Homo sapiens: one gene and its partner. The protein of the gene in region 1 purifies or fractionates together with the protein of each later gene. This does not show direct contact. Each region holds a gene or a part of one and is shown on either strand. Other genes may lie near its edges.

Region 1 (3,748 bases):
GATGGACTGTCTGTATGCCAAGTGTGAGTATCATACTTTTATGTTTCCGTGACATTTGTTCAGAATAATTATATTTATACAAATACATGAAAGGAGGGAGATGGGGTTCTTGTTAACTGAATTGCTGGCCATTTAATTTACAGTGGTCACCATAGCAGTGACCATGTTTAATGAATTGAAGTATAATGCAAACTTGACTGGAAAAAATTAAACTTTCACAATTCAGAAAACACTTAGAATGCTTCGAGTATCATTATGGACATCAATTTTGAACATAGGGGAATTTTCTGTTTTAGAATTCTAGATTTTAAAATTCTAGATAAATGAAAAATCTATTTTTCAGTATCTATATTCTTTTATGTTAACAAGGATATGTTCTCCCTTTTGCCCCAGTGTTGAAACACTAAATAAGACATTCTGCCATTTATGATCACAGCCCTAGAAGTTAGATAGATGATGGTCAATTCCTAAGTTTATTCAGTTTGGTATTTATTCGTAGTACAGAGGATCTGAGGTAGTTTATTTACACCTAGGTATGCAATTTACCATTAATAGATTTCCCTTGTGTATTTGTATATCCCCTCCTTTAAATGATCTTCCTTCACTACCATGAACAGGAAAAAGAAAAGTAAGGCCATCTATGAAGCCTATCATAGTAAGATCTGTCCCATTTGTAGCGGGTTTATATTTATATATTTTTCAGTCACCCGGTTAGAGGTACGAATGAAAATTAGACTTAAACTTTGCCATAGAGGATAAATTACTGGAATCAAAGGGAAAAATTTGTACCTCCCTTTTTAAGTTTTAAAGGCTACTATATAATGAACAACAGTTGCAGAGTGATAGAAATGGTAAATGTTGTTTACTGATTTATTAAAATGAGCAAGATGAGAAGATGGGGTTAAGGAATGTGTGAAGGGGTAAGAAAGCAGATTCTTTAGATGCCCAAAAATTAATTAAGAATGGCTGCAGCCGGGCGCAGTGGCTCATACCTGTAATCCCAGCACTCGCGGTGGCTCACGCCTGTAATGCCAGCACTTTGGGAGGCCAAAGCAGGCGGATCATGAGGTCGAGATCGAGACCATTCTGGCCAACAAGGTGAAACCCCATATCTACTAAAAATACAAAAATTAGCTGGGCGTGGTGGCACGTGACTGTAGTCCCAGCTACTTGGGAGGCTGAGGCAGGAGAATCGCTGGAACCTGGGAGGTGGAGCTTGCAGTGAGCCGAGATTGTGCCACTGCACTCCAGCCTGGCAAGAGAAACTCCATCTAAAAAAAAAAAAGAATGGCTGCATACATTTATTAGCTGCATACGTTTATTAAGATGTGAAGGTAGCCATCAGATGAGAAAAAAATGGAGCTAATGGAATAAAATAGTCTTCTCTACAGATCAGAATTGATTGGGTGGCAATGGTCAGGGGACCATTGTTTTTTCATATAGGCCTTTCTGTATTACTTTTTAAAGCTATATACATAAACTTTTGAAATAAATCTTTTAGAAATAATCTAAAGTTGAGGTGCTACCAGGCCTCTAAGAATGAGGCTTGGGTGACCCCATATGGGGGAAGACACTAAACTTGGTAGTCTCTTTGTATTTCCCATGGTATTTCTAATTGAGCTGCTTCTCCAGGAATGCTGTGACCTACTTATCAATGAAACGGATAGAGGGTCAAAGCATGGCCCTTTGCTTCCTTGATGAATTGCTTCCTTGACTCTATACCTCCACCAGTAATATCTAGATAGTGACTGTTAGAGCTTTAGGCAGGATAGCTTTAGTCTTATGGCTTTCTTTAAATATGTATACTTTTTTTTTTGAGACAGGGTCTTGCTTTGTCACCCAGGCTGGAGTGCGTTGGCGTGATCTCAGCTCACTGCGACCTCCGCCTCCCAGGTTCAAGCAGTTCTTCTGCCTCAGCCACCCCAGTAGCTAGGACATGCCACCACGCCTATCTAATTTTTGTATTTTTCGTAGAGGCGGGTTTCACCATATTGGTCAGGCTGGTCTCAAACTCCTGACCTCAGGTGATCCACCCACCTCGGCCTCCCGAAGTGCTGGGATTGCAGGCGTGAGCCACCGTGCCTGGCCTTGCTTGCCTTTATACTTAAAGGAAGGCCTTTCTCTTCCTCTTACCTTGAAAAGGCCTGTTTGATCTTTACATGGTTCCTGGTCTCTTCTATTTCCACTTTATAGTCCAACAAGGAAGGATAGTTTGCTTCCCATTGGCTTTCTCTTCTGCCTATGAATCCTGAGGCTGTTACTTTCCCTTTCCTTGTAGTGGTTTTCCTGAGCCTGCTTCCCTACTTCAGTTGCAAGCCTTTGCTCACTTCACTGCTACATGGCTCTGAAATTGGTCCTCTTAAAGAACACATTGCCTTGTTTCATGATCTCAGTATTAAAATATATATATATATTGAGACAAAGTTTCACTCTGTGGCCCGGGCTGGAGTACAGTGGGGTGATCTCTGCTCACTGCAACCTCTGCCTCCCAGGTTCAAGTGATTCTCCTGCCTCAGCCTCCCGAGTAGCTGGGATTATAGGTGCATGCTGCCACTCCCAGCTAATTTTTGTGTAAAGTAGAGACGGGGTTTCTCTATGTTGGCCAGGTTGGTATCGAACTCCTGACCTCAAGCATTCCGCCCACTTTGGCCTCCCAAAGTGCTGGGATTATAGGCATGAGCCACCACGCCTGGCCAGTATTAATATACTTCTAAAAAATTCTAGCATAAAAAAATGGAAGTTGAAGCCTGGGCAACATAACGAGACCCCATGTCTACACATAATTTAAAAATTAGCCAGGGGGCCAGGTGCGGTGGTTCACACCTGTAATCCTAGTGCTTTTCAGGAGTTCGAGATCAGCCCGGCCAACATGGTGAAACCCCATCTCTACTAAAAATACAAAAATTAGCCAGGCGCAGCACCATGTGCCTGTAATCCCAGTTACCTGTGAGGCTGAGGGAAGAGAATCTCTGGAACCTGGGAGGCAGAGGCTACAGTGAGCCGAGATCGTGCCACTGCACTCCAGCCTGGGTGAGAGAGCGAGACTCTGTCTCAAAAAAAAAAAAAAAAAAAAAAAGCATGCATCGTGGCATGCACCTGTGGTCCTAGCTACAGATGCTCAGGTGGGAGGATCACTTGAGCCTGGGAGGCTGAGGCTACAGTGAATTGTGATTATGCCACTACACTCCAGCCCAGGCAACAGAGCAAGACCCTGTCTTTAAAAAAAAAAAAAAGAAGAAGAAGAAGAAAAGAAAGTTGGGCTGGGCGAGATCTTCACCCCGTAGTCCCAGCAGTTTGGGAGGCCGAGGTGGGAGGAGTTCTGGGCTTGAGCTCAGGAGTTCAAGACCAGCCTGGGCAACATGGTGTGACCGCATCTCTACAAAAAAAATTTTTTTTAAATCAAGCTGGGCATGGTGGCTCATGCCTGTAATCCCAACGCTTTGGGAGGCCAAGGTGGGTGGATTGCTTGAGCCCAGGAGTTTGAGACCAGCCTGGCCAACATGGCAAAACCCTATCTCTACCAAAAGAAACCACAAAAATTAGCTGAGCATGGTGGAGCATGTCTATGGTCCCAGCTGCTTGGGAGGCTGAGGTGGGAGGATCACTTAAGCCTGGGAGGTCGAGGCTGCACTGAGCTATGTCCATGTCACTGCCCTCCAGCCTGGGTGACGGAACAAGAACCTGTCTCAAAAGGGGGAAAAAAAGGAAGTTGCTTATAATGCATTTCCTCAAAGGAGCAATTATAAAA
Region 2 (3,748 bases), on another chromosome or scaffold:
TAAGATTAGAGTTACTGGGTCAAAGGTGGTGAATAAGGGTCTCGGTGTACGTTGACCAAGTGTCTTCCGTAAAGACTGTACGAACGTCCAGTTCCAGTGTTTGAGAGTGCTGGTCTCACTGACTCTTCTCCAGCACTGAGGGTTTTGTGTTTCTTTATTTGTTTTGGTTTTAGGTCTTTACCAATTTGATTGGTTTATCAACAGGGCATGAGGTTGGTTTAAATATATCTTTGAGGAAAGGTAAAGTCAAATTTGACTTCATAGGTCATCGGCGTCCTCACTCCTGTGCATTTTCTGTTGGAAGCACACAGTTAATTAACTCAGTGTGGCGTTAGCGATGCTTTTTCATGGTGTCATTTATCCACTTGGTGAACTTGCACACTTGAGTGTAGACTCCTGGGTCATTGGGTTGGCCGCAAGGGAAAGTTCCCCAGGACACCAGACCTTGCAGGGTACCTCTGCACACCAACGGTCCCCCTGAGTCACCCTAGAGGGAATAGAGCCGGAGATTAACTTTGGCTTCAGATCAAAGCCCAACTCATTCTCATACATTCCTCAGTTATCGGTCTTTGTCTTGCAGATTATGGACTTCCACCATAGCCAATGAGAAGAGACTCATTGTCTCTGGGGACTAATGGGAGAGCTAGTGCTAGGGACACACTAGGTCCTTTGAAGACACTGGTTTGACCCTTGGCCAATGAGACCAATTGCAGAGAAGGGGTGGGGCTTCCAGGATCAGAGCACTCTTTATTTTCCAATGTTAAGGACCCTGCTCCAAGCTAGTGGGAGAAGGAACATCATCTCCAAGGGGTGGATGCGTGCCCTGTGGCGCAGGAAAGGGGGACACGATGGTCTCGGAGACCAGGGTGAAGACCAGTTACATAATTTACAGGACTTGGTGCAAAACGAAAATGCAGGGCCCTTTGTTCAAAAATTATTGAGAATTTCAAGACAACAGCAGGAATGCATTAGACTAAGTTTGAGACCCTTCTGAGTGTGGGGCTCTGTGTCCGTGCAGAGCTTGCACATTCATGAAACTGGCCCTCACCAGGGGAGAAGGGGAACACCCTATTCTCTAGGACAGTCATCTCTCTCCCATCTCCTCTATCCCTAACACTCACCATCCCACATCCCCTGACAGCTGAAGGTGCAGATGTGAGCAAGGAGGATGGGTGTGGAGAGACAGAGAGAGTTGGAGGTGGAGAAGAAAGAGGGAAAGGAGAGAGAGACAAAGAGAGATGAGGAAGAGGGAAAGGGTATGGGGAGAGAGAGAGACAGAGAGATGGGGGTGGAAAAGAAGGAGGGAGAAGAGAGACAGACAAAGAGATGAGGGAGATGGGGAGGGTGTGGGAAGAGAAGAGAGAGAGAGATGGGGGTGGAGAAGAAAGAGGGAGAAGAGAGAGACAAAGAGAAAGGGGGGGAAGGTGTGGGGAGAGAGATGGGGTGGGGGTGGGGAGAGGAGAGAGAGACTGGAAGAGAGGAGGAGAATAAAGAGAGAGAAAGAAAGACAGAGATGGGGGAGCGGCAGGGAGAGGAGAGAGATAGAAGAAAGAGAAAGAGAGAGACAGTAAAAAGGAGGGGGCAAGGAGAGATGAGGGAGAGAGATGAAGAGAGACAGAGAAGTGGGGGAGAGAGAGAAAGAGGAGAGGGCCAGAGAGGAGACAGAGAGAGAGGAAAAAAGAGAGAGCAGGGGGGCAGGGAGAGGAGAGAGGGAGGGGAGGAGAGAGAGAGAAGCAAGAGAAAGAGGGAGAAGACAGAGAGCAGAGAGGAGGGCATGGAGAGAGAACAAGGGAGGGAGAGCAAGCTAGCTCAACACAGAGAAAAAACAAAGAGGAAAAGAATGAAATGAAATTATGTCACAAAGAGAGATGTGGGAAGACTGTTCAGAAACAGAGGGGATGACAAAAGGCCAGAAAGAGGGAACAGAGAGGAGGTGGAGAGAAAGAGTGTTTTCCCCGGGACCAGGGCCAGGGTCAGGTGAGTGAGTCATCAGCTTCAGGCACAAAATCTCAGTAACTGCAATACACAATACTTCAATGCAGTACTTAACGAAATCAAATGTAATACATAAAACTGCATGATGGGCATGGTATCCACATTTTAAATGAAGACAGTGCCAGTACAGCGCTGTGCTGAGCCACGCTAGTACTTACGGCAAGGGAAAATTCAGTAAGATCCACCTGCTCTTTATTTAAAATGTGACATTTTGTCCATCATGGACTTCTGCATGAGTTTTTATTTTTATTTTTAAATATTGCATTATGATTTATCTCAATCACTGAGGTTTTTGGTGCCCCCTTAAGGTTTGGGCCTGAGGCCAGCACCTCAGTCTCCTTCCCTGGTCCCACCCCCACTTTCTCACCCCTATTAAACTCTCTGTCTCATCCCCAGGGCCACATTGGCCCCTAAGTAAACTCCCACCCCTGACCTAGGCAGAGAATGAGGTGGAAAAAGCTGAGGAGGCCAGGCCTGGGGGGAGGGCAAGGCCGGGCTTGGTACCCAGTCACTCGGGTCAAGCTCTGTCCCTGGGGCATGCAGACAGGGTACCCAGGACTGGGGAGGAATTGGGGGGGAGGGTCTCACATTGCAGGCGTTTTTCTTGGAGTCGGGGATGCCAGCGCACAGCATGGAATTTTCCAGTAAGTCCTTGTAAACCTTCGTGCAGTCCTGGGGGGAGATGAGCTTGACATCCACGCACATGAGGTCAGAGGGAAAGGTCACTGCAGGGAGGAGCAGGGAGAGCTGTCAGTCAGAGAGGATGGGGGCGAGGACCAGAAGGGCTGTTGTTCAGGCTCCTGGTTCCGAGGGAGGAGGGTCTGGGGCCCAGGACTGCTGGGTCTGAGGGAGGAGGGGCTGGGGTCTGGACTCCCGGGTCTGAGGGAGGAGGGGCTGGGGGCCTGGACTCCTGGGTCTGAGGGAGGAGGGGCTGAGGCCTGGACTCCTGGGTCTGAGGGAGGAGGGGCTGGGGGCCTGGACTCCTGGGTCTGAGGGAGGAGGGCTGGGGCCTGCACTCCTGGGTCACTGAGGCCACCTACCATCTGGGCTCGTGGTAGTGCCCCAGCCGGAGACAGTACAGGTGGTTCCAGGGGGTTCGCAGCGGGAGGGCAGCCTGACTTTCTTCACCATGGATGACAGCCTGGCCTGGCTATTGAGCTTCACGAGCATGAGGTCATTAACATGGGTCTGTGTGGAGTAGCCGGGGTGGCGGAATGACTTCGAGGCCTTGATCCTCTGAGCTCTCCTGTCGCCCAGCGTATCACTGCCCAGGTGCACGGTGTACTCACTGCGAGGAGTGACATTCACAGATTCAGAAGAGACACTGTGACAGAGAGGGTGTGCAAAGACCTGGGGGACGGGGTGGGGACAGAGACCCAGAGAGAGGAGGGGGGACAGAGACACAGAGAGAGGAGGGGAGACAGAGACCCAGAGAGAGGGGAACAGAGATCCAGAGAGAGAGGGGGACAGAGCCCCAGAGAGAGGGAGACAGAGACCCAGAGAGGGGGGGACAGAGACCCAGAGAGAGGAGGGGGGAGAGAGACACAGAGATAGGAGGGGGGACAGAGACACAGAGAGAGGAGGGGGGAGAGAGACACAGAGAGAGGAGAGGGGACAGAGACCCAGAGAGAGGGGAACAGAGACCCAGAGAGAGAGGGGGACAGAGATCCAGAGAGAGAGGGACAGAGACCCAGAGAGAGAGGGACAGAGACCCAGAGAGAGGGGAACAGAGACCAGAGAGAGAGGGGGACAG

What was found.
Region 2: the proteins of FCF1 (region 1) and KLK7 purify together in Homo sapiens (affinity purification with mass spectrometry; 2 studies listed by BioGRID and IntAct, with this or other methods). This does not show direct contact.

Annotation. Positions count from the first base shown.
Region 1 is NC_000014.9:74,716,077-74,719,824, forward strand, and holds part of FCF1 (rRNA-processing protein FCF1 homolog), read left to right. Parts: coding exon 1-23; intron 24-3,748. UniProt on the Homo sapiens protein: Part of the small subunit (SSU) processome, first precursor of the small eukaryotic ribosomal subunit.
Region 2 is NC_000019.10:50,977,205-50,980,952, forward strand, and holds part of KLK7 (kallikrein-7 isoform 1 preproprotein), read right to left. Parts: intron 3,284-3,748; coding exon 3,036-3,283; intron 2,721-3,035; coding exon 2,584-2,720; intron 488-2,583; coding exon 332-487; 3' UTR 1-331. UniProt on the Homo sapiens protein: May catalyze the degradation of intercellular cohesive structures in the cornified layer of the skin in the continuous shedding of cells from the skin surface. Specific for amino acid residues with aromatic side chains in the P1 position.